Linked DNA regions of Homo sapiens. The protein of the gene in region 1 interacts with the protein of each later gene in a pairwise test. Each region holds a gene or a part of one and is shown in the gene's direction. Other genes may lie near its edges.

What was found.
Region 2: the proteins of ZNF426 (region 1) and TSGA10 interact in binary tests that used the Homo sapiens proteins (3 or more experiments, as listed by UniProt).
Region 3: the proteins of ZNF426 (region 1) and NLRP12 interact in a two-hybrid assay, tested with the Homo sapiens proteins (one large-scale study listed by IntAct).
Region 4: the proteins of ZNF426 (region 1) and NATD1 interact in binary tests that used the Homo sapiens proteins (3 or more experiments, as listed by UniProt).
Region 5: the proteins of ZNF426 (region 1) and RFC5 interact in binary tests that used the Homo sapiens proteins (3 or more experiments, as listed by UniProt).
Region 6: the proteins of ZNF426 (region 1) and KCTD9 interact in binary tests that used the Homo sapiens proteins (3 or more experiments, as listed by UniProt).
Region 7: the proteins of ZNF426 (region 1) and MPPE1 interact in binary tests that used the Homo sapiens proteins (3 or more experiments, as listed by UniProt).

What each region holds. Positions count from the first base shown.
Region 1 is NC_000019.10:9,528,181-9,532,703, reverse strand, and holds part of ZNF426 (zinc finger protein 426), read left to right. Parts: intron 1-1,636; coding exon 1,637-1,719; intron 1,720-3,067; coding exon 3,068-4,324; 3' UTR 4,325-4,523. UniProt on the Homo sapiens protein: May be involved in transcriptional regulation.
Region 2 is NC_000002.12:99,147,891-99,152,413, reverse strand, and holds part of TSGA10 (testis-specific gene 10 protein), read left to right. Parts: intron 1-744; exon of another isoform or gene 745-1,579; coding exon of another isoform or gene 1,580-1,855; exon of another isoform or gene 1,856-1,931; intron 1,932-4,065; exon of another isoform or gene 4,066-4,150; intron 4,151-4,523. Other genes in the region: uncharacterized protein C2orf15, read right to left, coding at 1,580-1,855. UniProt on the Homo sapiens protein: Plays a role in spermatogenesis. When overexpressed, prevents nuclear localization of HIF1A.
Region 3 is NC_000019.10:53,796,057-53,800,579, reverse strand, and holds part of NLRP12 (NACHT, LRR and PYD domains-containing protein 12), read left to right. Parts: intron 1-2,048; coding exon of another isoform or gene 2,049-2,166; coding exon 2,167-2,337; intron 2,338-4,523. UniProt on the Homo sapiens protein: Plays an essential role as an potent mitigator of inflammation. Primarily expressed in dendritic cells and macrophages, inhibits both canonical and non-canonical NF-kappa-B and ERK activation pathways.
Region 4 is NC_000017.11:21,237,653-21,241,196, reverse strand, and holds the end of NATD1 (protein NATD1), read left to right. Parts: 3' UTR 1-2,327; downstream 2,328-3,544.
Region 5 is NC_000012.12:118,019,171-118,023,693, forward strand, and holds part of RFC5 (replication factor C subunit 5), read left to right. Parts: intron 1-461; coding exon 462-598; intron 599-1,735; coding exon 1,736-1,815; intron 1,816-3,115; coding exon 3,116-3,189; intron 3,190-4,523. UniProt on the Homo sapiens protein: Subunit of the replication factor C (RFC) complex which acts during elongation of primed DNA templates by DNA polymerases delta and epsilon, and is necessary for ATP-dependent loading of proliferating cell nuclear antigen (PCNA) onto primed DNA.
Region 6 is NC_000008.11:25,426,807-25,431,329, reverse strand, and holds the end of KCTD9 (BTB/POZ domain-containing protein KCTD9), read left to right. Parts: intron 1-1,356; coding exon 1,357-1,473; 3' UTR 1,474-3,483; downstream 3,484-4,523. UniProt on the Homo sapiens protein: Substrate-specific adapter of a BCR (BTB-CUL3-RBX1) E3 ubiquitin-protein ligase complex, which mediates the ubiquitination of target proteins, leading to their degradation by the proteasome.
Region 7 is NC_000018.10:11,894,156-11,898,678, reverse strand, and holds part of MPPE1 (metallophosphoesterase 1), read left to right. Parts: intron 1-1,058; exon of another isoform or gene 1,059-1,153; intron 1,154-1,322; 5' UTR 1,323-1,414; coding exon 1,415-1,695; intron 1,696-3,401; exon of another isoform or gene 3,402-3,494; intron 3,495-4,523.

The sequences.
Region 1 (4,523 bases):
CACACGCTTTTATTTACAGAGCAGTCCCCCCTTGTCTGTGATTTCACTTTTCACGGTTTCAGTTATCTGCATTCAACCATGGTCCAAAAATATTAAATGGGAAACTCGGCCAGGCATGGTGGCCCACACCTGTAATCCCCACACATTGGGAGGCCTAGGTGGGTGAATCATTGAGCCCAGGAGTTCAAGACCAGCCTGGGCAACATACCGAGAACCTTGTTTCTACAAAAAATACAAAAATTAGCCGAGGGTGGTGGGACGCACCTGCTGTCCCAGTAACTCAGGAGACTGAGCTGTGAGGATGGATTGAGACTAGGAGGTCAAGGCTGTGGTGAGATGTGATTGCACCACTGTACTCCAGCCTGGGTGATAGAGTGAGACCCTGGCCACTGACCCCCACCCCACAAAAAAAAAAAAAAAAAAAAGAAAAAAAGAAAAATTTCCAGAAATAAACAAAACATAAGTTTTAAATTTCTCACCATTCTCAGTAGTATGATGAACCCTTATGTCATCCTGCCTGGGGTGTGAATCATCCTTTTGTCCAATGTATCTACACTGTGTACACCACCTGTGAGTCACGTAGCGGTCATCTCAGTTACCAGATCGAAGAATCATAGTATGTACAGGGTTCAGAACTAGCCATGATTCAGGCATCCACCTGGGGTCTTAGAACATTTCTTTAAGTTAATTGTGGCTTTTGTTTGTTTGTTTTGTTTTTTGAGATGGAGTCTTGCTCTGTCGCCCAGGCTGGAGTGCAATGGTGCAATCTCAGCTCACTGCAAGCTCCACCTCCCGGGTTTATGCCGTTCTCCTGCCTCAGCCTCCCAAGTAGCTGGGACTACAGGTGCCTGCCACCATGCCTGGCTAATTTTTTTATATCTTTAGTAGAGACGGGGTTTCACCGTGTTAGCCAGGATAATCTCAATATCCTGACCTCGTGATCTGCCTGCCTCGGCCTCCCAAAGTGCTGGGATTAAAGGCATGAGCCACCGTGCCCGGCCAAGTTAATTGTTTAGATATACGCTCTTTTTTCAGAAATTTCCTACTTTCATTCCCTGATTCTCTCTATTCACTATCAGTTTTAATTTTCATAGCATCAATTTGTAATAAACGATCGAAAAGTTTTACCCCATGTCCTTGTCTTGGCCAATTTTTCCCCCTTTGGATCATTTACATCAAAACCAAATTTTTGATATAGCCCAAATCCCCAAATGTCTTTCTGCTTTTTCTTGCCATGTTTAATTTGAAACAAATAGAAATAAGCCATATTGTTTTGAACTCTTTGCATTTCTTTCTCCAAATCCTTTCATTTGTTCTTGTTGTGGTTCACTCTGTTTGTTGCCAAGGCTGGAGTGCAGTGGTGTGATCTGAGCTCCTTACAACCTCTGCCTCCTGGATTCAAGAGATTCTCCAGCCTGAGCCCCGTGAGTAGCTGGGATTGCAGGTGCTCACCACCACACCCAGCTAGCTTTTGAATTTTTAGTAGAGGTGGGGTTTTGCCATGTTGGCCAGGCTGGTCTCAAACTCCTGACCTCAAGTGATCCACCTGCCTTAGCCTCCCAAAGTGCTGGGATTACAGGCATGAGCCACTGTGCCTAGCTTGAGTCCTTTTATTTGTTTGTCTGTTTTATTTCAGGATGGGAAATGCGACTTGAAACCCAGTGGTCTATACTTCAGCAGGACTTTTTGAGGGGTCAGACATCCATTGGGATACAATTGGTAAGATTTGCATAGGATATTTTTTATTTTCCACCCTCAGAGAAAATCAGGAATTCTGTTATGGGAAGTCAGCAAAAATAAGAGATATTTGAGAGAAGTTGCATACACATGAGAGGGAGCAAAGAATTTAGGGATGCTCCAATTGTGAAACTTGTTTCTTTGGAGCTTTCACACATTCCCACAAGTGTAACTAGACGTTGAGTTTTGTTTTGGTGTTTTTTTGAAACGAGATACTGCTCTGTCACCCAGGCTGGAGTGCAGTGGTGCAATCATGGCTCAGTATAGTCTTGACCTCCTGGGCTCAGGCGATCCTCCCACCTCAGCCTCCCTTGGTAGCTGGGACTACAGGCATGCACCACCACACCCAGCTAATTCTTCAAAATTTTGTGGAGACAGGGTCTTACTGTGTTTCCCAGGCTAGTCTCAAACTCCTGTGCTCAAGTGATCCTCTGCCTCAGTTTACAAAAGTGCTGGGAGTACAGGCATGAGCCACCACATCTGGCTTAGACTATGAATTTTTTTTTTTTGGTCGAGACAAGGTCTTGCTGTGTCACCCAGGCTGGATTGCAGTGGCACAAACATGGCTCACTGAAGCCTTGACCCCTTGGCTCAAGTGATCCTCCCACCTCAGCCTCCTATGTGGTTGGGACTACAGGAACACACCACCATGCCCAGCTAATTTTTTGATATTTTTTATAGAGATGGAGTTTTGCCATGTTGCCCAGGCTGGTCTCTAATTCCTGGGTTCAAATGATCCACCCACCTTTGCCTCCCAAAATGCTGGGATTACAAATGTGAGCTACTGCACCCATCTAGACATTGAATTCTACAGAAATCTGTTATTATTATTATTATTATTATTTTGAGACGGAGTCTCGCTTTGTTGCCCAGGCTAGAGTGCAGTGGTGTGATCTTGGGTCACTGCAACCTCCGCCTCCCAGGTTCAAGCGATTCTTGTGTCTCAGCCTCCCAAGTAGCTGGGATTACAGGCATGTGCCACCAAGCCCAGCTAATTTTTGTATTTTTAGTAGAGACAGGGTTTCACCATGTTGGCCATGCTGGTCTTGAACTCCTGACCTCAGGTGATCTGCCCCCCATCGGACTCCCAAAGTGCTGGGATTACAGGCATGAGACACCATGCCTAGCCAAGATTAAAGTAGATGGCACAACATTCTAGAATAAGAGTTAAGTCATACCACTTAAAATAAATCTACAGGGAAGGACCTGAATGCATGTAATAAAAATGGCATCAATTATAATCACCATTATAATGTTTCTAGCTTCAGATGGGTATGTTCTGTTAATATGTTTGAGAAAAATCCTTAAATCATCATCATCCCTTCAACAGGAAGGAAAACACAATGGAAGGGAACTCTGTGACTGTGAGCAATGTGGAGAAGTCTTCAGTGAACACTCATGCCTTAAGACGCACGTGAGAACTCAAAGTACAGGGAACACTCATGACTGTAATCAGTATGGAAAAGATTTCCTTACCCTGTGTGAGAAAACCTCTACTGGTGAGAAACTTTCTGAGTTTAATCAGAGTGAAAAAATCTTCAGCCTGACACCAAATATTGTATACCAGAGAACTAGCACACAAGAAAAGTCATTTGAATGTAGTCACTGTGGAAAATCCTTCATTAATGAGTCATACCTTCAGGCACATATGAGAACTCACAATGGAGAAAAACTCTACGAATGGAGGAATTATGGGCCAGGTTTTATTGACTCTACAAGCCTTTCTGTGCTTATAGAAACCCTCAATGCAAAAAAGCCCTACAAATGTAAGGAATGTGGAAAAGGCTATAGATACCCAGCCTACCTCAGTATTCACATGCGAACCCACACTGGGGAGAAACCATATGAATGTAAGGAATGTGGGAAAGCCTTCAATTATTCCAACTCATTTCAGATACATGGAAGAACTCACACTGGAGAGAAACCCTATGTATGTAAGGAATGTGGGAAAGCCTTCACTCAGTACTCGGGCCTTAGTATGCATGTACGATCTCACAGTGGAGACAAGCCCTATGAATGTAAGGAATGTGGGAAATCCTTCCTTACATCCTCACGCCTTATTCAACATATAAGAACTCACACTGGAGAGAAGCCTTTTGTATGTGTTGAATGTGGGAAAGCCTTTGCAGTTTCCTCAAATCTTAGTGGACATTTGAGAACTCACACTGAAGAGAAGGCCTGTGAGTGTAAGATATGTGGGAAAGTATTTGGGTATCCCTCATGTCTTAATAATCACATGCGAACGCACAGTGCCCAGAAACCATACACCTGTAAGGAATGTGGGAAGGCTTTTAACTATTCCACCCACCTTAAAATTCACATGCGAATCCACACTGGAGAAAAACCCTATGAGTGTAAACAATGTGGAAAGGCCTTCAGTCATTCCAGTTCATTTCAAATACATGAAAGGACTCACACTGGAGAGAAACCCTATGAATGCAAGGAGTGTGGGAAAGCCTTCACGTGTTCCAGTTCCTTTAGAATTCATGAAAAAACTCACACAGAAGAGAAACCCTATAAATGTCAGCAATGCGGGAAAGCTTACAGTCATCCCCGTTCACTTCGAAGACATGAACAAATTCACTAGTGAGAAACTGTCCATGTAATAAATGTGGGAAAGCTCTCATTTGTTCCAGTTCACTTTAAAGACATGAATGAACTCACTCTGGAGAGAAGAAGCTGCATGAAAATTACTTAATTCCTGTAATCCCAGCATTTTGAGAGGCTGAGGTGGGTGGATCACTTGAGGTCAGGAGTTTGAGACCACCCTGGCCAACATGGTGAAA
Region 2 (4,523 bases), on another chromosome or scaffold:
CTAGGAGGCTGAGGCAGGAAGATCGCTTAAGAACAGGAATTCGACACTGCACTGAGCTATGATCGCTCCACTGCACTCCAGCCTGGGCAACAGAGTGAGACCATCTTAAAAAAAATCAGTTTTATGTGGTATGTCTTGTGTTGTGTTATGTCCCTCTGAATGCTATACGTTTCTTCATGGCATATCACAATTTGCATCTTATATAATTACTGTATAATCTCCTGTCTTTCCTAGTAGACAGGCACAAAACTCTACAAGGCACTGGCTATTTTATTCACTACTGTATCTCCAGCACCAAGCACAGTGCCAGGCTAGGTGAACAAATGAATGATTTATGTATTTTTTTTCTCTTCTAAAGAATTACGTTCTGTAAATAATAAAAAGCATTGTCTTTTTGGCTTATGTCCCATTCAACAATTGTTTTTCACTCTCAATATTCCCTACAAACACATTTGTTTAGTATTTTTCTGATTAATAAAATATAGCTTCCCCCCGGAAAAGATGCCCTTTCCTCTTTTAAAATGAATATTAAAGAGATTTCCAACTACCAGATATTTTCATAACTGATATACAAAACAAGGTTTTTAAACAGGTTGTTTTTTCTCATATTAAATATTGGTGACATAAAATGGTACCATCTGCAAGACAAACTATTAACACTTGGAAAGAACACTTTTCTAACTCTAAAATGGATTCTATGTGGGGGGAAAAAGCAGTTTTAAAGGCACGATTTAAAATGTGAAATCCTTCTGAAGATATGCAATTTATTGGTCTTTTGCAGTTTATTGGCAGTGATCTTTTACAGAACAAAAATGCAAAATGTAAGAAAGTAAAGTATCATAAAGCAGAATCCCAAAATGGAAATGTAACATACAAAACTGATACACCAGAAATATTGTGAAATACGGATGTCACATTGCTTGGACTTTTTTTTTTTTTTTTTTTTTTTTGAGACGGAGTTTTGCTCTTGTTGCCCAGGCTGGAGTACAATGGCATGACCTCAGCTCAGTGCAGCCTCCGCCTCCAGGGTTCAAGCGATTCTCCTTCCTCAGCCTCCCAGGTAGCTGGGATCACAGGTGCCCACCACCATGCCTGGCTAACTTTTTGCATTTTTAGTAGAGATGGGGTCTCACCATATTGGCCAGGCTGGTTGCGAACTCCTGACCTCAGGTGATTGACCCGCCTTGGCCTCCCAAAGTGCTGGGATTACAGGTGTGAGCCACTGCGCCCGGCTGCTTGGACACTTTTTTTAACCACTTGTTAAAGAAATACATTAAAATGAAAATGTTTTGATGCCATTCAAATACTGTTACTTAAAAACTCTGGTTTTTAAGAAGGATATAATATAATACCAGAGAAATCTGCTTTGAATCTTGGAAGGCTTTTTCACCCTAAAGCAACTGCCTTTTGAATAAGCATCATAAAAAAATGCAGTGTAAGATGATTCACAAATAGTGCAAAATAAGGCAATAGTCTTCCATCATTTTGTCAGGGTTTCCTAATAAGGTTAAGTTCTCTTTCAACACCCCCCTTAGTCAAAGGCAGTTTTTGGTTTCTTTGGTAATACGTACAAATTGCTTCATTCCACATCTGTCATTTCTAGTCCATCACTTTCTTTGACATATACCACTGAACCCAAGGCTTTCCCAGAAAGAGATCCTGTGCCAGTCCCTTCAATCCTTGTAAAGTTTTCTTGATTTGTGTCTTCTAATCTTATTTTCTTGGTGTTTTGAAATAACTGAGTCGCTGGTTCCAACCTGCTTTTTTCAGTCCCTCGTATTAAGTGATCATCCACTTTTGAATCCATATGTATAGCAGATACCTGAGTAGCAGATTTACTAAGTGAAAATCCCATTAGGATAGCTGAACAAATGTGAAAGTAATTTGCAGGTACCTTTTTAAGTAGTGGAAGTGTTTCTTCAACTTGATTACTGAAAAAAAAAAAAAAAGTAACAAGTGAATGCAGCAGGAATTTCCCTAACTTCATGGCAATGTTTGTTTGAATGAAAAGCTGTGGTGATACTAGAAATATAAAGTAAAATTGCCTCCTACCTTTCAGTGTTTACATTTTCTTTGTGGGAGGGTTTGCAGGTTCTAAAGATTTATTTGAAAGTCTTTTTAAAAGGAAATTTATCTGATTGTATGTTTTATCACCTTTCAGAAAATAGTAGAGCTTCTCTTAGTCCTTTCTTTCATTCTTGCTAGCGAAACCTCTTTATTCATTACTAATGGGCTAAAGAAATAACGACTGAAGGCCAAGTACTCTGCTAGTACTTTATTTTCTGTAAAAAATAAAGATGTCCTATAAAGATACTTGTGATTGGCTGGGTGCGGTGGCCCACGCCTGTAATCCCAGCACTTTGGGGGCCGAGGCGGGTGGATCACCAAAGGTTAGGATTGAGAGACCAGCCTGGCCAACATGGTGAAACCCCATCTCTGCTAAAAATACAAAAATTAGCTGGGTGTGGTGGCATGCACCTGAAATCCCAGCTATTCAGGAGGCTGAGGCAAGAGAATAGCTTGAACCTGGAAGACGGAGGTTGCAGTGAGCCAATATTGCACCACTGCACTCCAGCCTGGGCGACAAGAGCGAGACTCTGTCTTAAAAAAAAAAAAAAAAAAAAAAAAGATACTTGTGATTAAGGATGTCTAGTCTGTAAAAAGAGATGATCGGCCGAGCGCAGTGGCTCACACCTGTAATCCCAGCACTTTGGGAGGCTGAGGTGGGTGGATCACGAGGTCAGGAGATCGAGACCATCCTGGCTAATATGGTGAAACCCCATCTGTATTAAAAATACCAAGAATTAGCCGGGCGTGGTGGCGGGCACCTGTAGTCCCAGCTACTCGGGAGGCTGAGGCAGAAGAATGGTGTGAACCCGGGAGGCTGAGGTTGCAGTGAGCCGAGATCGCGCCACTGCACTCCAGCCTGGGCGACAGAGCGAGACTCCGTCTTAAAAAAAAAAAAAAAAAAGATGATCATGTAGCATGGAGGGAGGCCTTGGGAAGTTTCCCAAAGGAGGGGAGCCTAGGTTAGGGTTTCGCTTTCAAAGATGGGCAGGAATTTGGTAGGCAGAGTTGACCAGGATGGCAGAAGGGACAGGCTTCCTGTACAGAAAAGGTTTGAGAAAGCCCAGGGCTTACTGGAGAAGAGTGATCTACCCAAGATGCTATAGTAGCAACCTGAGATCTGGAGCAGATTCCACAGCTTCGATCGAAATCCCTCACCCATTTTTTTTTTTTTTTTGAGATGGAGTTTCACCCTTTCACCCAGGCTGGAGTGAAGTGGTGCGATCTCGGCTCACTGGACCTCCACCCGGCAGGTTAAAGTGATTTTCCTGCCTCAGCCTCCTGAGTAGCTGGGATTACAGGTGCCCGCCACCAGGCCCAGCTAATGTTTGTATTTTTATTTTTATTTTTATTTATTTTTTTTCCAGTCTATATTTTATTTATTGTGGTAAAATATATATAACATTTACCATTTTAAACACTTTTAAGTGTACAATTCAATGACATTGAGTACATTTACATTTTTGTGCAAACATCATGGTCATCCATCTCCAGAACTTTTAATCATCCCAAACAGAAACTCTAACGTTTGTATTTTTAGTAGAGACGGGGTTTCCCCATGTTGACCAGGCTGGTCTTGAACCCCTGACCTCAGGTGATCCACCCACCTCAGCTCCCAAAGTGCTAGGATTACAAGCATGAGCCACTGCGCTCAGCCTCACCCACTTTTTAGAATGTATTATGTCTTTAATATTTACCTACTGTGGTATCTTTGATAGTTTACAATTTCATACTCATCAAGCTGTAATTACTGACTGAACATTTCTAAAGAATCATCTTGAAACCCTGTTTATCCATATTTGTGACTGAATATCAGTGTTTATAACAAAACAGAGTCCTGGGTCTACTGTAGTAGCCTAAATATAGTACTTACTCAAATATTAATATAACAATTAGGTAAATAGTATATATTTGGCTTTCTGGGACTCAAATACAACTTAGCTAAATTTTTTAATATCTCTGATGAAATTCTGAAATATGGGTATATTTGATTTTTAGATTTGGAACTTGAAGATGAATTTTTCTTCCTCATCAAAGGAATATCTAATACTGCCTTCAAATGAATAAAATTGAGTTTATTCTATTTGGTTTCTCTTTTTCTTAGAAAGGAAATACTCCTGTCAAATGCATAACTTGAATCTAAACATGAGGAAACAATCAGATAAACCCAAACAGAAGTATCTTCTATGAAACAAATAGCTTCTACCTAAAAATGTCAATGTTATGAAAGACACAGAGAGGCTGAGGAACTGTTTCAGATTAAAGGAGGCTAAAGATACATTATTTCAGATGCAACCAATGCTCTTGAATTGGGAAGGGGATGGAATGTACTACAAAGATCATTACTTAGATAACTGAAACATTTGGATATGGGACAATATTAGATAATAATATTGGATCAATGTGATAAATGCCATGAATATGATAATTGTATTGTGGTTATATAAGTCAATGTC
Region 3 (4,523 bases), about 44 Mb from region 1:
TTTTCTGACGCACGGCCCTTTGCACAAGCAATTCTTATTCCCTGGCATGCCTTCTGCTCTCTGTCCCCTCTTTGCCTGGAGAAGTTCAATTTTTCTTCTGAACACTCTTTACTTTGTATTTTGAGACAGGGTCTTGCTCTGTCACCAGTGCTGGAGTGGAGTGGTGTGATCATAGCCCGACATCCTGGGCTGAAGCCATCCTCCCAACTCAGCCTCCTGAGTAGCTGGGACTGCAAGCGCATGCCACCACAGATGGCTAATTTTTACTTTTTTTTTGAGACGAGTCTTGCCCTGTCGCCCAGGCTGGAGTGCGGTGGCGCGATCTCAGCTTACTGCGAGCTCCACCTCCCGGGTTCACACCATTCTCCTGCCTCAGCCTCCCGAGTAGCTGGGACTAAAGGTGCCCGCCACCATGCCCGGCTAATTTTTAAAAACATTTTTTTAGTAGAGATGGGGTTTCACCGTGTTAGCCAGGATGGTCTCTCTCTCCTGACCTCATGATCCACCTGCCTCGGCCTCCCAAAGTGCTGGGATTACAGGCGTGAGCCACTGCGCCTGGCCAATTTTTATTTATTTTTTGTAGGGACAAGGTCTCGATTTGTTGCCTAGGCTGGTGTCAAACTCCTGGCCTTAGGAGATCCTCTGGCCTTGGCCTTCCAAAGTGCTGGGATTACAGGTGTGACCCACTACACCCAGCTGGACACCCTTTCTAATCCCTAGCTAAAATCTGGGTTCCTAGATTTATGATCCTATGTGACCTCATACTTCCCCCTCAGCATCATTTATTGAAATCTGAAGGCAGGATGCGGTGGCTCACACCTGTAATCTTAGCACTTTGGGAGGCCAAGGTGGGAGAATGACCTGAGGTCAGGAGTTCAAGACTAGCCTGGCCAACATGGTGAAACCCCGTCTCTACTAAAAATATAAAAATTAGCCAGGCATGGTGGCGGACGCCTGATATCCAGGTACTCAGGAGGCTGAGGCAGAAGAATTGCTTGAACCCGGGAGCCGGAGGTTGCAGTGAGCTGAGATTTTGCCACTGCACTCCAGCCTGGATGACAGAGCGAGATTCCATCTCAAAAAAAAAAAAGAAAAATTTGTAATTTGTGTATATGTGTGTGTGGTGGCATTCCACAAGCATAGGAGCTATGCCAACTGTATCTCCTAGTGACTAGTATAAGACGTGGGTAGAAGTGCTCAAAAAACACACTTTGTGTATTTTTTTTATCAAGGCACCAGCAAAAAACAAAAAACAAAAAATCACACACGCGGCTGGGCGCGGTGGCTCATGCCTGTAAACCCAGCACTTTGGGAGGCTGAGGCGGGTGGATCACGAGGTCAAGAGATGGAGACCATCCTGGCCAACTGGTGAAACCCCGTCTCTACTAAAAATACAAAAATTAGCTGGGCGTGGTGGTGTGCACCTGTAGTCACAGCTACTCAGGAGGCTGAGGCAGAAGAATCACTTGAACCCAGGAGGCGGAGGTTGCAGTGAGCCAAGATCACGCCACTGCACTCCAGCCTGGGCGACATTGCAAGACTCTGTCTCAAAAAAAAAAAAAAAAAAAATTTGTAGATAGGAGGCTGAGGCGGGTGGATCACCTAAGGTCAGGAGTTCGAAACCAGCCTGACCAACATGGTGAAACCCCGCTTGTACTAAAAATACAAAAATTAGCCGGGCATGTTGCCACATGCCTGTAATCCCATCTACTTGGGAGACTGAGGCAGGAGAATCGCTTGAGCTTGTGAGGTGGAGGTTGCAGTGAGCCGAGATTGCACCATTGCACTCCAGCCTGGACAACAAGAGGGAAACGCCATCGCAAAAAGAAAAAAAATTTTTTTTTGTACAGACAAGTTATTGGTTGTCCAGACTGGTCACAAACTCCTGACCTCAAAAAACCCTCCAGCCTCAAGCCTCCCAAGATGCTGGGATGACAGGCATGAGCCAGGGCACCTGGCCTGATTCTTAGTTGCTTCCTTCTGTTCTCTTATTCCTCCCTTCCTCTCATCTTCCTACTTCTGTCGTCTTTTTCTTTTTGTCTCTCAAGGGTAGAGATTGAGTCTGTCCCTCTGTCTGCAACCAGCACAGGGCTTGGCACAGGGCCCTCCCAGCAGATTTTGCAGGAGGAATGCCTCCCACTCCGCCCTAGCATCCTGTCTTTGCAGGTTGGGCATCTGCCGGCTGGGCTCTGCCGCCTGTGAGGGTCTTTCTGTGGTGCTCCAGGCCAACCACAACCTCCGGGAGCTGGACTTGAGTTTCAACGACCTGGGAGACTGGGGCCTGTGGTTGCTGGCTGAGGGGCTGCAACATCCCGCCTGCAGACTCCAGAAACTGTGGTGAGCATCGGGGAGTGACGGGGTGGCAGTGGTCACGTTTGGACAGTGGAAGCGCCTTCTCATCCTTCATTTTTCTATTTATGAACTATCCTGCTTCACTACAAAAGATTCAGGTAGCAAGAAGAGAGGTGGAAAGAAAAGACAGGAAGTCTCTCTGAACTTATTCTGATTTGGGGGTGCTACCCGACTTAAAATTTTAAAAACTTAAGGCCAGGCGCGATGGCGCATGCCTGTAATCCCAGCACTTTGGGAAGCCGAGGTGGGTGGATCACCTGAGGTCAGGAGTTCAAGACCAGCCTAACACGGTGAAACCCTGTCTCTACTAAATACAAAAAAAATAGCCGGGCCTGGTGGCACATGCCTGTAATCCGAGCTACTTGGGAGGCTGAGACAGGAGAATCGCTTGTACCTGGGAAGTAGAGGTTTCAGTGAGCCGAGATCATGCCATTGCACTCCAGCCTGGGCAACAAGAGTGAAACTCTGTCTCAAAAAAAAAAAAAATTAAAATTTAAAAATTACAAAAGAGGCTGGGCACGGTAGCTTAATGCCTGCAATCCCAGCACTTTGGGAGGCCGAGGCGGGTGGATCACCTGAGGTCAGGAGTTCGAGACCAGCCTGGCCAAAACGGTGAAACACCATTCTACAAAAATACAAAAATTAACCCAGTGTGGTGGCGCATGCCTGTAATCCCAGCTACTCGGGAGGTTGAGGCAGGAGAATGACTTGAACCTGGGAGGCGAGATTACAGTGAGCTGAGATCATGCCACTGCCCTCCAGCCTGGGTGATAGAGCAAGACTCTGTCTCAAAAATAATAATTCAGGCCGGGCACAGTGGCTCATGCCTGTAATCCCAGCACTTTGGGAGTCCAAGGCGGACAGATCATGAGGTCAGGAGTTTGAGACCAGCCTGGCCAACATGGCCATCTCTATTAAGAATACAAAAATTAGCCTGGCGTGGTGGTGGGTGTCTGTAATCCCAGCTACACAGGAGGCTGAGGCAGGAGAATCACTTGAACCCAGGAGGTGGAGGTTGCAGTGAGCGGAGATCACACCATTGCACTCCAGCCTAGGTGCCAGAGAAAGACTCCATCTCGAGAAAAAAAAATAATAATTCAATCTGGTGCTCTGTAAATTCCAATCAAATGTTAATTGTGACTTTCTCCCTCACCTTTCTGCCAGGCCAGCTGTAGCCCTAATCTGAAGGACTTAGAATGGGATGAGGCATCATCTAGTTTATTTGGGATTTTTTTTTTTTTTAAAACAGGGTCTCCCTGTCACCCTGGAGTGCAGTGGCACGATCTTGGCTCACTGCAACCTCCACCTCCCGGGTTCAAGCAATTCCTGCCTCAGCCTCCCGAGTAGCTGGGATTACAGGCATGCGCCACCACCCCGGCTAATTTTGTATTTTTAGTAGAGACGGGGTTTCTCATGTTGGTCAGGCTGGTCTTGAACTCCCGACCTCAGGTGATCTGCCTGCCTCGGCCTCCCAAAGTGCTGGAATTACAGGCGTGAGCCACCACGCCCGGCCTAACCCAGATAATTTTTTAAAATGTTTCAGAGGCTGGGCGTAGTGGCTCACGCCTATAATCCCAGCACTTTGGGAGGCCAAGGTTGGTGGATCACTTGAGGTCAGGAGTTTGAGACCAGTCTGGCCAACATGGTGAAATCCCCTCTCCACTAAAGATATAAAAATTACGGCCGGGCACAGTGGCTCATGCCTGTAATCCCAGCACTTTGGGAGGCTGAGGCGGGCGGATCACGAGGTCAAGAGATTGAGACCATTCTGGCCAACAAGGTGAAACCCTCTCTCTACTAATACAACAATTAGTTGGGTGTGGTGGCTCTCGCCTGTAGTCCCAGCTGCTGGGGAGGCTGAGGCAGGAGAATCACTTGAACCCGGGAGGCAGAGGTTGCAGTGAGCCGAGATCATGCCACAGCACTCCAGCATGGGCAACAGAGGGAGACTCCATCTCAAACAAAACAAAAATAAAAGGATACAAAAATTAGCCATGCTAATTGGTGGTGGTGCACACCTGTAATCCCAGCTACTCAGGAGGCTGAGGCAGGAGAATCGCTTGAACCTGGGAGGCGGAGGTTGCAGTGAACAGAAATCTCACCACTGTACTCCAGCCTGGGAGACAGGGTGAGACACTGCCTCCGAATAACATAAGTAGCCCCTGGTGTTA
Region 4 (3,544 bases), on another chromosome or scaffold:
CCTTGAGAGCCAGGAGGGAATGGGCCTGGTGCCACTCTGTTCCCACTCCCACCTAAGATTCCTACCCCTGTGTTCTAGCAGGTGACTCTTGATCTGGCCAGCCCACAACAAATACTTGAACTAGGCAGCATGGGGTGGTGGAGGCCTGCAGAGGCCCCGGGCCCAGGAACTGAGACTAGGGCTTTCTCATGAGGCCTCATCAAGCTCCCGCAGGTATGACCTGGCCTCCTCGCCTCGGGCTGCCTTAAAGCACCGCTAACCCACGCCAAGGGGCTAGGCAGGGCTTCGCGGGGCCTGGCCCAAGGTCTCCAGCAGAGCAATAACATCTTCCCAGGTTGGGTTGCCACAGACACCGTGCCCTGGAGCCCCCAGCCCATCCCATCTGGTGCTACCCTGTCTGCCTGGCAGCCTAGCCTCACCCCTCCTGTCCGGTCACCTGGGGGTCCTTGGTAAGGATGCCGCCACATGGGGCCGGTTTATGCACCTGGGCGAGAACCTGACTGGGGCAGGGGATGCTCAGGGGCCTGCAGGTCTCCCACAGAGCTGCTTTTCTGCCCGCCTCACCCTGTGGGTTTGTATTTCTTGCCGGGTCAAAATAGGCAGTGACTCGTGCCTTCCCTCCTCAGGGCCGGCGGCAGGGTGTGGACCCAGCTGGCCGCTGGACCGTCCCCTTCCTCATTCTCCAAGCTCATCAACAGGTCTCAGAGGAACATTTCCATAAAAGGTGTGGCCTGGCATGCAGTGCTGTCTGCACGCTGTCGCTTCCCCCACAGCAACCTGCCGGTCAGCCTTAACTGGTGTGGAGGTCGAGGTGGGGAGGGGGAGGCGGGCTTCCCTCCCTGGTGTCTGGCCTCTTTTTGCTCAGCCCTCAGCACAGCCTTCAGCGTGGAGAGCGAGACCCTGCGTGTCACTGGGGCTTGGCTGAGGTCTCCCTGCAGGATAACAGTGACTTCAGGAACCCAGACCCCAGTCTGGGCGGCTCTACCTTCCCGGCTGGCCCAGCCCCCACACCACAGTTCCCTGCCACCTCCAGGCACAAAAGCCTCTGAGGCCACAGCCCAGCTATGAAGCTGAGTGGCTTTGTGCGGTCTCCTAGGGAAGGGGCAGTGATGCCATGCATGAGATCCGCTGTGCCATAAGAAGTTGCTTCCTTTAGAATTTCTGGTCCAATGCAGGGAGGTGAGGCCCAGCCTCATGATAACACATGCCCATCAAGGAAAAGCTGTGGCTAATGCTTCCAAAACAAGTGAAAATCTTGCACCAGGCCCAGGGCCATATCTCATTCCGCCCCAGCTACTGAGGGAGGGGACAGACTGCTGGAGGACAATTTCTCCTAGTTACCACTAGGGGTTACATGGCTACTCAGAATGAAAGATAAATTGCCAGGCCTGTTGCAATCTTTTTTTTGAGATGGGAGTCTTGCTCTGTCGCCCAGGCTGGAGTGCAGAGGTGCGATCTCAGCTCACTGCAACCTCCACCTCCCGGGTCAAGCAATTCTCCTGCCTCAGCTTCCCGAGTAGCTGGAATTACAGGTGCCCACCACCATGCCTGGCTAATTTTTGTATTTTTAGTAGAGACGGGGTTTCACCATGTTGGCCAGGCTGGTCTTGAACACCTGACCTCAAATGATCCGCCCACCTCGGCCTCCCAAAGTGTTGGGATTACAGGCGTGAGCCACCTCACCAGGCCCCGTTGCAATCTTACTCCACTTCGTTTTCACAGCAGTCCCGGGACATGCCCATTATTAGGCCTATTTGATAGATGATACTGAGGCTGAGTCGGGGGTCACAAGCCAAAGCCACACCGCTAGAAGGGCTCAGGACCCAGCCCAGCTCCCGTCCTCTTGGTGGCATCAAGCTTGTGTGATATGAGGTCTTATGTCTGCTCATGACAGCCTTAAAAGCAATAAACAGATACAACTTCCAGCAACTTCCCACTCAGCTGCAAGGCTGCGGGGGGGTCCTGCCTCGAGCCATAAGGTGAGCAGCTAGCCAGTGCCGGGCCAGTGTGGAGAAGGCTGAATTGCCTGTGAAGCTGGGGTTGCAGGCAGGAATATTCATGGAGCCCCTGACCATGTACTCACACTGCTCTTCCTCAGTTCAGGGTTCTTGGATTTGCTCAAGTCCACCCAAATATCCCTTTACGATTCTCAGGGTCCCACTCCTTCCAGATCCAATGCCCTAAACTTTACATAAGAGTTCCGGCAAGGCTGTGACTTCAACTTGTGTTGTAACTGCAACCTGCAGAATCAAATTTAGGGTTATGTTTTCAGTTGTATCAGTCTTACGGCTACAAGATATTAAAGAGATTCTTTTCTGGTTATCAAAGATGCTCTCTGGTTTTCTGTCCATGTTTTGAGCTGGGTTTATCACTTCTGACTCCAGTGTAGTCAGAAGCCACCAGTCTCTCCAGCTGTCCCCATGACATGAAGGGCTGCAGCCATTTGGTCTCTCAAACTTTGCCTTCAAGAGACACTTCACGCCAGGCACTTAACATAGGTGATATTGTGAGGACTAGTTTTGCCACTGAATGCTGTGACTTTCCAGGGTACCACATCCCCTCTGACAGTGAGGTCATTACTGCGTTCCAGCCCAATCCAGGCAGATAACCAGTCCCCGATTTCCAGCATTAAGGCTCTATTTCTAGGAAGTCATTCCTGCTACCAAGGACATTACCAGTCAGTGAAGAGTCAGGAAAATGGAAATTGCCCAGGCACTTCAGAGTGGATTTAATGCAGGGGACTGGTTATGAAAACTGTTGGAAGGATGAGAGGAGTGAGAGTGGAGGTGAGATTGCCAAAATATTGGTAAGTAAGTGCAGGAAGCTGCTTTTACATGGAGGCTGGAGGAACAGGTGTCACCCAGAAGCGTCTGGGGATCACAGGGCTGCTAGGGTACTCCTGGTAGAAAGTTGATGGCTGAACAAGACCCAGGTGTGCATGCCTGCTGTTGCCACCACTAAAAAAACCCCCAGATCCAGGAACTTTACTGCCTTCTGATTGATCAGTGCTTCCTACCAGCAGAAACAAATTGGAAGCCCACTGGTAAGGGCTCTAGCAAATGTAGTTTGCAGGCTTCCAGCTTCTCTGTGATCAGAGAAGGGAAGGGCTGGCAACCAACAGACAATCAGGGCAAGGAGAAATATTCTTGCCTGCAGGGGCTGTGGCATATGACATAAATGCCAGTTCATTGATACCAAGGCTGAGGCAAAGCATCTAGAGGATGACAGACCCCAGAACCAGGCAGACCAAGAATGGATGGATAGTGGGTAGATGATTGGGTGATAGATGGAGGGGTAGATGAGTGGGTGGATGGGTAAGTGGGTGGATGGATGTGTGGACGGGTGAGATAATGGTTATTAGCAATACCAGCTCATCTGCCATCACTAATACCAGCACATCATGCACTGGAGTGCTAAAAGTAAAAGGTCCCTTGTCTTGGGAAGAGCTTGTCTGAGGGTCGAGGGAGACACTTGTAGGCCATTAAACATGGAGTCAGGTGGGAGATCTGGCTGGGTGAGATTCTATCATTTTCTGAATTAGGGA
Region 5 (4,523 bases), on another chromosome or scaffold:
TTGAGCGACTTGTATAAATTGCTTGGTGATGTTGTCTCTCCTAAGTAATAACTTCAAAGAATCTGATTGCGCTTTGTAGAATGTGGCTTTAAGATCATTCATTCATTTTCTTCAGGTTGCTACAGTCCAGTGGGTAAGTCACAAACATGAGCATAAAATTGCAACACAGTGGAGTAAAAATAGCATTACGGAGAATCATTTAAGTTCACAGATGTTGCCAGCACCCAGAAAGGTGCCTGTAACACAGTAGGCACTCAATAAATACTTGTTGACTGGCTGCGCTATTGAGTGAATTCCAGTTGTTCCACGAAAGTAGATATGAGGCCCCTACATCAAGTTGTATCTGCCTCTGATTTGGACATTGAATTGGGTTGAAGAGCTTTCAGCCCAACTCAGGAGCCCAGGGTGAATGAGGCAGCTCCCAAAGACTGATGGTGCCCTTCTTCCTTCCTGATCCTCAGTTCAGAAGTTTATCAATGAAGACCGACTGCCACACTTGCTTCTCTACGGTCCCCCAGGGACAGGCAAGACATCTACCATCCTAGCCTGTGCGAAACAGCTATATAAAGACAAAGAATTTGGCTCCATGGTCTTGGAGGTAAATAAGATTGTTCTTACTCTACAAATAACTTAAGAGACTCCAGTCTCTTAATTTCAGTTCTGCTGGTTTTATTTTACTTTAAAAGTAAGTTGCCCCACGGACAGTTAGGAAAGAAGTAAATTTGAATATTTTAATTCCCTTTTTCCTATAATGGTCATTTTGGTCTGGATTAGCGTTGGTCAGCTAGAGGGCAGTTGTAGGGTTTGGCACCTTTTTCTTTGCTCTTGCCAACTTCTCCCCAAACCTTACTTTATGGTGACTTGGTTGCTGCCTGTCTGCCATGGCCCCTCTAGATCAATTCTCCACGTTTCTCCACCATATTCCTGCCTGGAAGGCTGAGCCCTACTGACTATAAGCTCACTTACCCTCTGGCTCCTGGTTGGGTTTGGCCAATAGGGGCCTTGGCAGGGGTGGGGGAAGGAAGTGAGTGATGCCTGGGCCTTCCCTGGGGGCTGACACAGGCTGGCAGCATGGCCCACCTGTAGGGTACATCTCACAGGTGGTACCTTTCCTGCAGCCCTCTCCAGGTGCCTACAGCCACTCCCTTCACTAAGCCCTTCAGGCTCAAGGGTGACAGGTATTGCATAGCCCCATGGTTTTCCTATATCACACCTTTAAAAAGATCTTGTTTAATTCTCTTCAAATTGCTGCATTTGAGTATGCCATCTGTATATTGCTGGGACCTTGACTAATATACTTAGATTCAAAAATCTGAGTATTGTCTATTGCAAGAAAAGTTTAACTTACTTTTTAGACGCAGGTCTCAGAACTTTGCTGCTACTAATGTCCTTATTTCAGTTTATTAAGAACTTGGTAACTTAGGATTGTGGTAGCTGAAATTTGTATCATTCTGCTCATACCAGAGGTGCTGTTCAGTGTAACCATACCAATTAATTATTTCTCCAATTTATGTCAGTCATTGTCCTCAAAGGGTGGGGGTAATATAGCCATCTTTATTAATTTAGTGAATTTTGTGTAAAACTGATTTTTTATTTTATGATGATCTCTTAGCCATCATTAGACATAGAGAGCTAGCCTGCTGAGCTGGACTGATGAGGAAATACACTAACACCAAGAACTCACAGATAGCACAGCAACATGGTTTTTGTTTTGTCTTCTGTCTTCCACATTTAGCTGAATGCTTCAGATGACCGAGGAATAGACATCATTCGAGGACCGATCCTGAGCTTTGCTAGCACAAGGACAATATTTAAGTAAGAATTATTTGTGTAATTTCGCTCCCTTGATTTTGATTAGTAAGATGATATGGGTTAATTTTTTAATCCTCTCCTTAGCCAGTTTATATGGGTTGAAAAAAAAAGTGACTTTGTCCAAAGCAACCATGGAAAAGAGATAAACGAGAGGGATGGTAGTAAGAAGCGTTATAATGCAACTGTTAAAATAAAATGTTATCTACGCTTGTATTAGCAAGTTTGTTTTTTTTTTCTTTTTTTTTTGGAGACAGGGTCGCCCTGTATCGTACAGGCTGGAGTGCAGTAGCATGATCTCGGCTCACTGCAACCTCCACCTCCTGGGTTCAAGCGATCTTCCAGCCTCAGCCTCCTAAGTAGCTGGGACTACAGTCGTGAGCCATCACGCCCAACTAATTTTTGTATTTTTTAGTAGACATGGGGTTTTGCCATGTTGCCTAGGCTGGTCTCGAACTCCTGAGCTCAAGCAATCTGCCCGCCGCAGCCTCCCAAACTGCTGGGATTACATACGTGAGCCCAGCCTGCATTACCAAGTTCTTTAGGGAGCATTAACTTCATTTTTAGTTCCTGAGAACTGGCTAGATTACCCTAAGACTGGATGAGCTAGTTTGAATTTAAAAATAAATTGAGATCAGGAAGGACAACTAGGATGGTGGCTAAAAAAAAAAAAAGAAAGAAAGAAAAAGGGTGAGGGCCGGGCGCAGTGGCTCACACCTGTAATCCTAGGACTTTGGGAGGCCTAGGCAGGTGGATCACCTGAGATCAAGGGTTCAAGACCAGCATGGCCAACATAGTGAAACCTCGTCTCTACTAAAAATACAAAAATTATCTGGGCATGGTGGTGGGCGCCTGTAATCCCAGCCACTCAGGAGGCTGAGGCAGGAGAATCGCTTGAACCCAGGAGGCAGAGGTTGCAGCGAGCCAAGATCGCGGCACTGCACTCCAGCCTGGGCAACAGAGCAAAAACTTAGTCTCAAAAAAAGCAAAAGGGTGAGGGACTCAGGCATGAGTGAGGGAGACGGGAAAAGCAGTAGCATGGTAGGGTGCCATGTGGAGGAAAGTGAAGATGCCAGAGGACACAGCGCACAGAAGTAGAGAAGTCTCCTCCATTCCCACCAAGGGTTGAAGGAGTGATGCGGCATTTCCTCTCTGAGTGACCAAAGATGTCTGCCTTGGCCAAAGTTCTAGAAGAAATTGTCTTTCTGAGACAGGGCCCGATGGCACAATGGGAAGATATAGGTTTGAGCCCAGATGTTGAGATGAGATTGAAGAAATCTTTAGACAGCACCATTTGTTTTTCTAGGAAAGGCTTTAAGCTAGTGATCTTGGATGAAGCAGACGCCATGACTCAGGACGCCCAGAATGCCTTGAGAAGAGGTAAGCAGAGGCACTGTGGAGCGTTTGGGCTGGTGTGCACACTGGAAGGAGAATTAGGAACTTTGTGTTTGTTGCTGTTGTCATTGTTTTTTTAGGCGGGGGGGAGTTTTTTTTTCTTTTTTTGAGTCAGAGTCTTGCTCTGTCACCCAGGTTGGAGTGCAGTGGCGCAATCTTGGCTCACTGCAGCCTCTGCCTCCTGGGTTCAAGCGATTCTCTGACCTCAGCCTCTTGAGTAGCTGGGATTACAGGCATGCACCACCACACCCGGCTGATTTTTATATTTTTAGTAGAGATGGGGTTTCACCATGTTGGCCAGGCTGGTCTCGACCTCCTGACCTTGGGTGATCCGCCCGCCTCGGCTTCCCAAAGTGCTGGGATTACAGGAGAATTAGGAACTTTAAGCTTCCCAAAGTGCTGGGATTACAGGAGAATTAGGATGTGAGATATGGCTTGGCTTGTTTTCAGTTTTCATCTTCTGGCCCAGAGAAATCTCTATGCCTTTCTCTGTGTCTCCCATCTAATGACACAGGCTAGATACCTCTGTAGCGGGACTTCCCCTTCAGCAGCCTAGGGACTAAGCCCTGCGGGGACTTTTAAGTCTGGCCAGTCACTGGTGTTCAACCTCCTTTGACACTGGGTTCAATTTCAGAGTTGGGAATTCATATCTTTCCGTGGGATGGGGTGTGGAAAATCTTTCATCCTTAAGCTATCAGATAGTCCTTCTGCTAATAGTACCCTCTCCTTTCTACTAATGGTACCCTTTGAACCACAATGGCTAGGAAAAGCATATCTGAAGTTGAGGTGCTCAGAGAGCTGATATTACTTCACTGCTTGCCAAGTGAATGATTTGGCAGCGGGAGGGACAGCACCCTGCGATTTGTCTGTCTTCAGGGGCCTAGCGCAGTTCTTTTCTCTTAAAGGACACTTGTCATCTCTCATTAAGATTCCAAGTGAATCAGCTTTGAGAGAAGAACGATCTTTAGGAGTTTGTGGCGAGGGAGTAGATGGCAGCACATGTTAAGAGAAGGATGGGGGAAGGGGGAGGAGGAGGAGGGGGGAGGAGGGGAGGAAGAGGAGGGGGTGAGGAGGAGGAGGGGGAGGAGAAGGCGGAGGAGGAGGGTAGGGGGAGGTGGAGGAGGAGAGGTGGGGGAGGAGGAGGAGGAGGAGGACAGCGAGAATATCTTCTGGTCCTAGAAGCTTGGCAGCCTTTCTTCGGCATCTTGTTCTGCCGAGTGACTGTCATTCTGGGCAGATCCCCATGTGAGAACATTGGGTACCTACAGAATGGAACCGGTGTCATAAGCAACTCTTTGTTCGGGTTATTGCTCCCTTGA
Region 6 (4,523 bases), on another chromosome or scaffold:
GTACCTTTGGGGCTTTAAAAAGAAGGGCAGTTCCTTGCTATAAAAATACTAGGGCTAGGGAATGGAAAAATCTATTACACAATTTGATTAAGTAAAATCTTTTCAGATTAAAAAAAAAGTCTTCCCCCCATCTCATTCCTTTTGTTGTTGTTGTTCTTGGATCATAGTAAAATTGTTTTGATAATATTTATTACTTTGGGGCCAGGCGCAGTGGCTCATGCCTGTAACCCCAGCATTTTGGGAGGCCAAGGTGGGCGAATCACTTGAGGTTAGGAGTTTGAGACCAGCCTGGCCAACATGGTGAAACCCCGTCTCTACTAAAAATAGAAAAAATTAGCCAGGCGTGGTGGTGAGTGCCTGTAACCCCAGCTACTCTGGAAGCTGAGGCAGGAGAATAGCTCGAATCCTGGAGGTGGAGGTTGCAGTGAGCCGAGATTGCACTCCAGCCTGGGCAACAAGAGCAAAACTCCGTTTCAAAAAAAAAATTGTGTGTGTGTGTGTGTGTGTGTGTGTGTGTGTGTATTTATTATGTTGGAATCCATTCTGTATTTTAAATCAGTGGTCCCCAACCTTTTTGGCACCAGGGACTGGTTTTGTGGAAGAAAATATTTTCACAGATCAGAGTCGGGGGCTGGTTTTGGGATGATTCAAGCGCGTTACATTTATTGTGCACTTTATTTCTACTAGTATTACATTGTAATACATAATGAAATAATTATATAACTCACCATAATGTAGAATCAGTGGGAGCCCTGAGTTTGTTTTCTTGCAACTAGACAGTCCCATCTGGGGGTGTTGGAGACAGTGACAGATCATCAGGCATTAGATTCTCATGAGGAGTACCCCACCTAGATCCCTCACATGTGCAGTTCACAATAGGGTTCACGCTCCTGTGCGAATCTAATGCCCCTGCTGATCTGACAGGAGGTGGAGCTCAGGCTGTAACTTGAGCCATACAGGGACTGGCTGTAAATACAGATGAAGCTTCATCTACTGGTGACCTCCTGCTGTGTGGCCTGATTCTTAACAGGCCATGGACCAGTATCAGTCTGTGGCCCAGGGGTTGGGGACCCCTGTTTTCAATGTCTCCTTATAAAATATGCAAGAACAAGGGACATGCTTCCTCTTTAACCTTTGTTTATACATATTTATGGTGATCAGCCTGAACTAGAGGTAACAAATAAAGATAGAAGAACATCTTAATTTAGGGTGGTGTATCATCAGTTTTCCGGAAATTAACTGAGTTTTATTGTATAAGAACATTTTCCTAATCTGCCCCAGAAATCATTTTGAGCAGAAATAGATAAGGCCTGAAATTTCCACATGAATTACATGAATATTGTTTTCATCTTGCAGAATTGTGATCTGTCTGGGTGTGATCTTCAAGAAGCCAACCTGAGAGGGTCCAACGTGAAGGGAGCTATATTTGAAGAGATGCTGACACCACTACACATGTCACAAAGTGTCAGATGAGAATTTTAGGGGCTGGAGGAAGATGTAAAAGATGAAAATGTTTTCCTTATCACTTTTCTTTCTCCACCCACTCAGTTGTCTAGAAGAAATAACACTGTAAGGAAATTTAAAAAAAAAACATTTAGAGGATTATGCTTGTTTTGAGTGGTGCATAAGGGAAAAAACTGACTTTTTTTCCATATTCTGATTTTTAACAGAAAAGCACTCATTTAATAGATGTAGGGAAACTAGATATTGCTGCCTTTTGAATGGGGTAGGGGGGTTTACCTGGTTTTATGACCAGGCATAGTATCTATTATATTTGCTTTTAAATAGGCATGATGTGGAAATACCATCTTGGTTTGAGATGCATTTGAGGATTTTAATTTATGGAAAGCACAACATATGCAATTATATTTATTGAATTCCTAGATGCAGTATGGATATTTAAATTGTTAAAACTTTATGAAAACTTGGAAAAGGTTGTTCAGGTTTATAAATAGCTTTAGTGATGCCTCCCCTCTTTAAATACCTGTCACACCGTATGAATATGGTGAGATCAGACTCCCTAAGACTCTTTTCAGGTTCATTTTTATAATGTTTACTTTTTAGGACAGAACAGTAGCTAAATTAAAGTAATATCCAGTTCTTACTGATTGAGACAGAGTGGAAAGAAAGACATCATTGTACATCACTGTCATTCCAAAGGTACAGTGTAACTCTGGATGGAGGAATAACTTACCTATCACTACAACACTTACAAATGAGAATTTCTCAGAATTTCATTCTAGGCAAGTTCCACTCAACACCAGATCAAGCAATTCTATCTATTTACACTATTAGCCTAGTTTTCTCATACAGTCATCACAAGCATAGGAAGATACTTCAAAACCAAAAAAACCAAGGTGCATCATTAATATTCATTTAATTCAAATACCAAATAGTTTACATAGGGCCAGCTTAGAAATAGATACTAAATCCAGAGCTACTGCAATCAAAGCTTATATGAGTGAATATGGTAGAGTTGCCTGCTAAAAGGCAATGTAATATAATTGCAGCTAGAACCCTACAGTGGGGAATGAGGAATTTTAAACACACATTTGATTACAGCCACCAAAAAAATAGACGTAAAAATAAAGGCATTTGGCTGGTCCAAGATGTAATTATCAATCAGTCAGCACCTGTGATTCTTTTACTTATTTTTTTGTGGTTTTTTTTTTTTAAACAAATTTTAGCCCAATTTTCTTGAGTCATTCTCTCTCTGCAGCAGCAGAGGAAGGGCCTGTACCTCCCTACCAATGACTTGGTGTCCTTATTTTCTACCCCAAGAGCAGGGATATTAGCTGTGTCCAAATGGGTTCTGAATTCTACAGACTCATCAACATGAGGCAAGGAATCATTGAAAACCACCTGTGTCTCCTTTGGGAGAATGACATATCTTTAGTATTTACGTAGCTTATTCTTCTATATCTACATATGCAAAGCTTTCCTTAACAGTAAAGGGTACATATGCATAGTGGGAGGAGATCAGACCTTTACAAGTGAAGGAAAGCAACTTCAGAAATGAATTATTTTCTTTGCTTTATTATTTTTACCAAGACAGAGAAGTATTGTATTGAGAGATAATCTATTTTCATAATCAATATGTGCCTAAATTATATTTAAATCATTTCACTCTGTACTATATTTTCAGGAATTACAGAATGTGGTATTCATTCACTTAAAGGTACCTCTGTAGAAATAACCTAAAACTGCAGAAGGATCTGAAAGATCTAAACATGGTGTGCTTAGAAACTGCAGATTTTAGATCTAATGTATACTGCATTAATAAATGATATAAAGTGTTTGTTGAAAAGGAGTTTCTTCTCTTCCTTTTGAAAATCATCACTTTCTGTATTTTGCTTACATTTCTTCAATATGTGTTGACAACCAGCCCTGTGGTTCTGGGTAGCAAAGGAAATACAGTATAACTTAATTTGTTATGGATTAGTCTTTTTGAAAGTACCATTAAAGTAAATTTATTTCTTTAAACATGATTATTTTTATCATTCTTTTAAAAATACACCATGCTAACAACACAAACCTTATGAATTCTGAACAAAAGAAAAGACTGCCTCCCCAATAATTCGTTTAATTTGTTTGTGTTAAATTCATCACTCTTTAGGTGATGAATATTACCAGTTAGCTTTATTAGACTGGATAAATAGCATGCCCCAAAACATTTTTTGCCTGATAACTAGGATAGAGAATTTTAAGGAGGGAAGAAACCGTTAAAATAGTAAAACTTCCATTAACCCTAGAGATGAAACATGTCTGTACACATAGGTAAAAATACAGCTGTTGGGATGACAGGAAAAAGGTTTTAAATCAAAATTAAACTAGCTGGATTATCTGCATTAATAAAATTTGGTACTCAACTAAGCAATACTATCTATTGTAGTCTAGTTCTTTCAACTATAGTCTCAAGGAAATTCTGGTAGAAAATGTTGTAAATTAATTATTCTTATGAAGGGTTCAATCATAAATCAAGACTTGGAATATTTTCTCCATTTCATTTTATGACTCTTATGTGTACTGTAAATCTGCCCTATGTCAACTTTAAATCATCTTTAATATATGGAAAAAACTTAGAATTGCACTAAGTAAGTCCCCAAGGAAGAATTACCTTTAAAATTAAAAGGTTCATTACTACAAAGAAAAGTGGTTACATTATTTCAGTATAAAGCACCTTATCCAAGGATTAATTCTCTGAAACCCTTTTACAACCTGATTAGACATGTCAGCAGGAGTTAACCTTAAGTGCTTCCTGCTGAGATTTTACATTAGGGCAAGAAAAGATTTTTTTCATCTGTCATTTCAGTGATATTATGAGATCATCGCTGTAATAATTTTGAGGTGTTTTGATGTTGATGAAGCAGTTTTTTCTCTAAAGCCATTCTTTCAAATTTAGAAAAAAATATGACAAATATAAAATCCAATTATTTAAACCCAATTTATTATATTTAACTTTTTGATAAACTGACCTAACCATGGAATCCTTAAATGGTTTTAAGTTTGTCATTCAATATCAA
Region 7 (4,523 bases), on another chromosome or scaffold:
GCAGGGTCAGTCAGGTAGGGTAAATCAGTTGCCCGAAAGTCTGAAAAATATGTCAAAAGACCAATCTTAGGATCTACAATAGTGATGTTATTTATAGGAGAAATTGAAGGAAGTCACAAATCTTTGTTACCTCTGGCCTCATGACTCCTGAGCATTTAGGGATTATAGAAACTACATTCAGCAGAATTCAAGCCCCTCCCCTAATCCTAATCTCGATACCTTTCATTAGTTTTCAAAGGTGGTTTCAGCCTCAGAACAGGGAGTAGACTATTATCATCATCCTTGCTTCAAAGTTAAACTATAAACTGGCCTGGCAAAGTGGCTCACGCCTGTAATCCCAGCACTTTGGGAGGTTGAGGCAGGTGGTTCATTTGAGGTCAGGAGTTTGAGACTAGCCTGGCCAACATGGCGAAAAACCGTCTCTGCTAAAAAAAATACAAAAATTAGCTGGACGTGGTGACGAGTGCCTGCAATCCCAGCTACTTGGGAGGCCGAGGCATGAGAATCACTTGAACCCAGGAGGCGGAGGTTGCAGTGAGCCCAGATCACACCACTGCACTCCAGCCTGGGTGACAGGGGAGACCCCATTTCAAAAACAAAACAAAACAAAACAAAACAAACAAACAAAAACCTATAAACCAAATTTCTCCCAAAGTTAGCTTGGCCTATATCCAGGAATGACCAAGGACATCTTGGCAGTCAGAAACAAGATGGAGTCAACTATGTCAGATTTCTGTTACTGTTATAATTTTGCAAAGGTGGTTTCACTGTCAGATCCTGGCCTCTGGGTCCAATGTGGAATGAATTCCTTGGATCTTTGAAGCACATTGTCCATGAATATTCACTTATTTTGTGGAAAAGCAGAGTAGAAAAGTGATGAATTAACACCAAAAGCAACACATTACAGGCGGCTTGTGACCTGTTGATTTTTAAGGTCAAGGAGGGGTGGTGGGGAATCCTGGGAGTCAAAATTACACTTAAATAATACTGAATTTTCCCATTATGTCTCCTACCTTGACACACATCATTCTCATGGATTCCCATTTGATGATTTCTAGAATATTAATGAAACTTTATCATCTTGGTGAGAAAAGCATTCTAATAGCTTTATTCTGACATACGGAGGTATGGAGAGCTTGAAGGAGTCAGAGAGGTCAGTTGTTTTCCTTATTAGTAATCTGGCATATTATTATTGTAAAAGTATAAGACGATTAATTTGGAAATGTAGATAGGATTATGTAACTCATTAGTTCTTAATAGAGGGAGGTCGTGATACCTGTATTATTAGGGAACATAACTGAATTCTTTTCCTTTTCCCGTAGGTGCCCAGCTAAGACCTGAATGCCATCACCCTCCCCAGGGCTCTGCAGTTTTCTCGTGGTGAACCCTTGATGGATTTGTTGTTGCTTGAGAAATGGCGATGATCGAATTGGGGTTTGGAAGACAGAATTTTCATCCATTAAAGAGGAAGAGTTCATTGCTGTTGAAACTCATAGCTGTTGTCTTTGCTGTGCTTCTATTTTGTGAATTTTTAATCTATTACTTAGCGATCTTTCAGTGTAATTGGCCTGAAGTGAAAACCACAGCCTCTGATGGTGAACAGACCACACGTGAGCCTGTGCTCAAAGCCATGTTTTTGGCTGACACCCATTTGCTTGGGGAATTCCTAGGCCACTGGCTGGACAAATTACGAAGGTAAGAGGTAAAATCAGGAATCTTTCTAAAATTCTGTAGGCAAAACGGTATAGCCCTCTCCTCATAGGCAAGGCTTATGGCTTTAGGTTACTCTTAGTTATTTTCCTCTCAAAGGAGGACATTTAGGGACATTTGACTTTTCCTTGAATTTACCATTTACTGAGGATATATACAGGGCCCCATAATTTGGGAGTCAGATCTGGGCCACATCGCTTTGTGACTTTGGACAAGTTGTTAGGGCCCCTCTGAGCCCCTGCCTCCTTGTTTGTAACTGGATTAAGACAAGAAACATCACAAGATGTGCCACGCAATGACAACAAGATGCTACACAATGCCTGGTGCCTGGGACTGGTCCCCTGGGCAGGGGAGGACACAGATGTGGGTTGGTGGTCCCATCTCACCTTCATTGCTGTGTAACTTTGAGCCTATTGGGTTTCAGCCTCCTCTAGGCAGCAGAGGAGCAGAGCAGATTTGTGGCTGTCACCCTGGGGAAGGATCAGGTCCTATCTTTCCAACTCACACCTGCCCCTGCATGGTCCATTGTTTTTTTCACCAGGAAGCTTTTTAAACAAATTATTTTTAGGCCAGGTGCACTGGCTCACGCCTGTAATCCCAGCACTTTGGGAGGCCAAGGCAGGTGGATCACCTGAGGTCAGGAGTTCAAGACCAGCCTGGCCAACATGGTGCAACTCCATCTCTACTAAAAATAGAAAAATTAGCTGAGCATGATGGCGGGCGCCTGTAATCTCAGCTACTCCGGAGGCAGAGGCAGGAGAATCGCTTAAACCTGGGAGGCAGAGGTTGCAGTGAGCTGAGATTGCACCACTGCACTCCAGCCTGGGCAACAGAGCAAGATTCCATCTCAAAAAAAAAAAAAAAAAAAAAAAAGAATAAAGAATAAGAATAATGAAAGAGCAGCTATACCTTTTTACTAAGAGTTTTAACCAAAGGAGGCATGAGCTCAAGAAGGGCCGGTGGGGGGCCTGCAGTGTCTTGGTCTTACAAATTGATCCTGATTGATGTCTGGTCTCGCCAAGTAGCCTTCTGTACCTTCTTCCTGCTGCTGTTTCTAGATTTTTACTTCCCATGGTGAATAACATTAAATCAAGAGAGACTGAGAAGCTGGGTGCAGTGCTTCACGCCTGTAATCCCAGCACTTTAGGAGGTGGAGGTGAAGAACTGCTTGAGGCCAGGAATTTGAGACCAGCCTGGGCAACGTGGCAAGACCTCATTTCTACAAAAAAACAATAAACAAAAACCAAAAATAGCTAATTTTTGCTCTTTATGCCCGCTTGTAGTCCTAGTGACTCAGCAGGCTGAGGCAGGAGGATCGCTTGAGCTACTTTGAGCACCAGAGTTTGAGCCTCCAGTGAGCTATGACCATGGCACTGCAGTCCAGCCTGGGCGACAGAGCAAGAGCCTGTCTCTAAAAAAAAAAAAGTAAAATAAAATAAGAAAAACGGAGAAATGTATTTTGAGAGAGATCTTGGGTAAAAAGCCTTTCAGGGGTGATGTGTACCATTCAGTTCACTTGGGATCTAAAAATCTTCCTCTGACCAGAAATTACATTGACTGATTAAAATGGGGTCTAGCTCTGTTGCCCAGGCTGGAGGGCAGTAGTAGGATCATAGCTCACTGCAGTCTCCCAAGTAGCTAGGACAACAGGCTTGTGCCACTACGCCCAGCTAATTTTTACTTTTTTGTAGAGATGGAGTTTTGCTGTGTTGCCCATGCTGGTTTTGAACTCCTGGCCTCAAGTGATCCTCCCTCCTTGGCCTCCCAAAGCATTGAAATTACAGGTGTGAGTCACTGCACCCAGCCTACTTTCCCCTATTTATATATCCCAGGACATAGCATTTCCCTTTTGTAGAGGAGGAGCAGCCAGGAAAATGCCTTAAAAAGGAGGAAAGGTTTGGATTCCTTAGAAAAATGACATAGGCTGGATTTGGTTAGGTTGAAGACGGGGAGGGCTGAGCAAACACTGACATTTTTGAGCACCTGCTGTGTGCCTGTGCCATGCTTTACAAATGCTGTCTTATTTAACCCTGTAACTATCCTGTGCAAGTAGGGTTTAAAATCCCCATTTACCGGCCGGCCGGGTGTGGTGGCTCATGCCTGTAATCCCAGCACTTTTGGGAGGCTGAGGCGGGTGGATCACCAGAGGTCAGGAGTTCGAGACCAGCCTGACCAACATGGAGAAACCCCGTCTCTACTAAATATACAAAATTAGCTGGGTGTGGTGGCACATGCCTGTAATCCCAGCTACTTGGGAGGCTGAGGCGGAAGAATCATTTGAAACGGGGAGGCAGAGGTCGCATTGAGCCGAGATCACACCATTGTACTCCAGCCTGGGCAACAAGAGCGAAACTGCATCTCAAAAAATAAATAAATAAAATAAAATAAAATCGCCATTTACCAATGAAGACACTGGGCATCAGAATAGGCAATTTTTTCAAAGCCTCACAGCTTTTCAATGGATTGAGCTGGGATGTTAAGCCATCATCTGTCAGATTGCAGATCCCAGGCTGTTTTTTTTTTTTTTTTTTTTTTTTGAGATGGAGTCTCGCTCTGTCACCCAGGCTGGAGTGAGTGCAGTGTCATGATCTCAGCTTACTGCAACCTCCGCCTCCTGGGTTCAAGCAATTCTCCTGCCTCAGCCTCCCAAGTAGCTGGTACCACAGGCGCATGCCACCATGCATGGCTGGTTTTTTGTATTTTTAGTAGAGACAGGGTTTCATGATATTGGCCAGGCTGCTCTTGAACTCCTAACTTTATGATCTGCCCACCTCGGCCTCCCAAAGTGCTGGGATTACAGGCATGAGCCACCA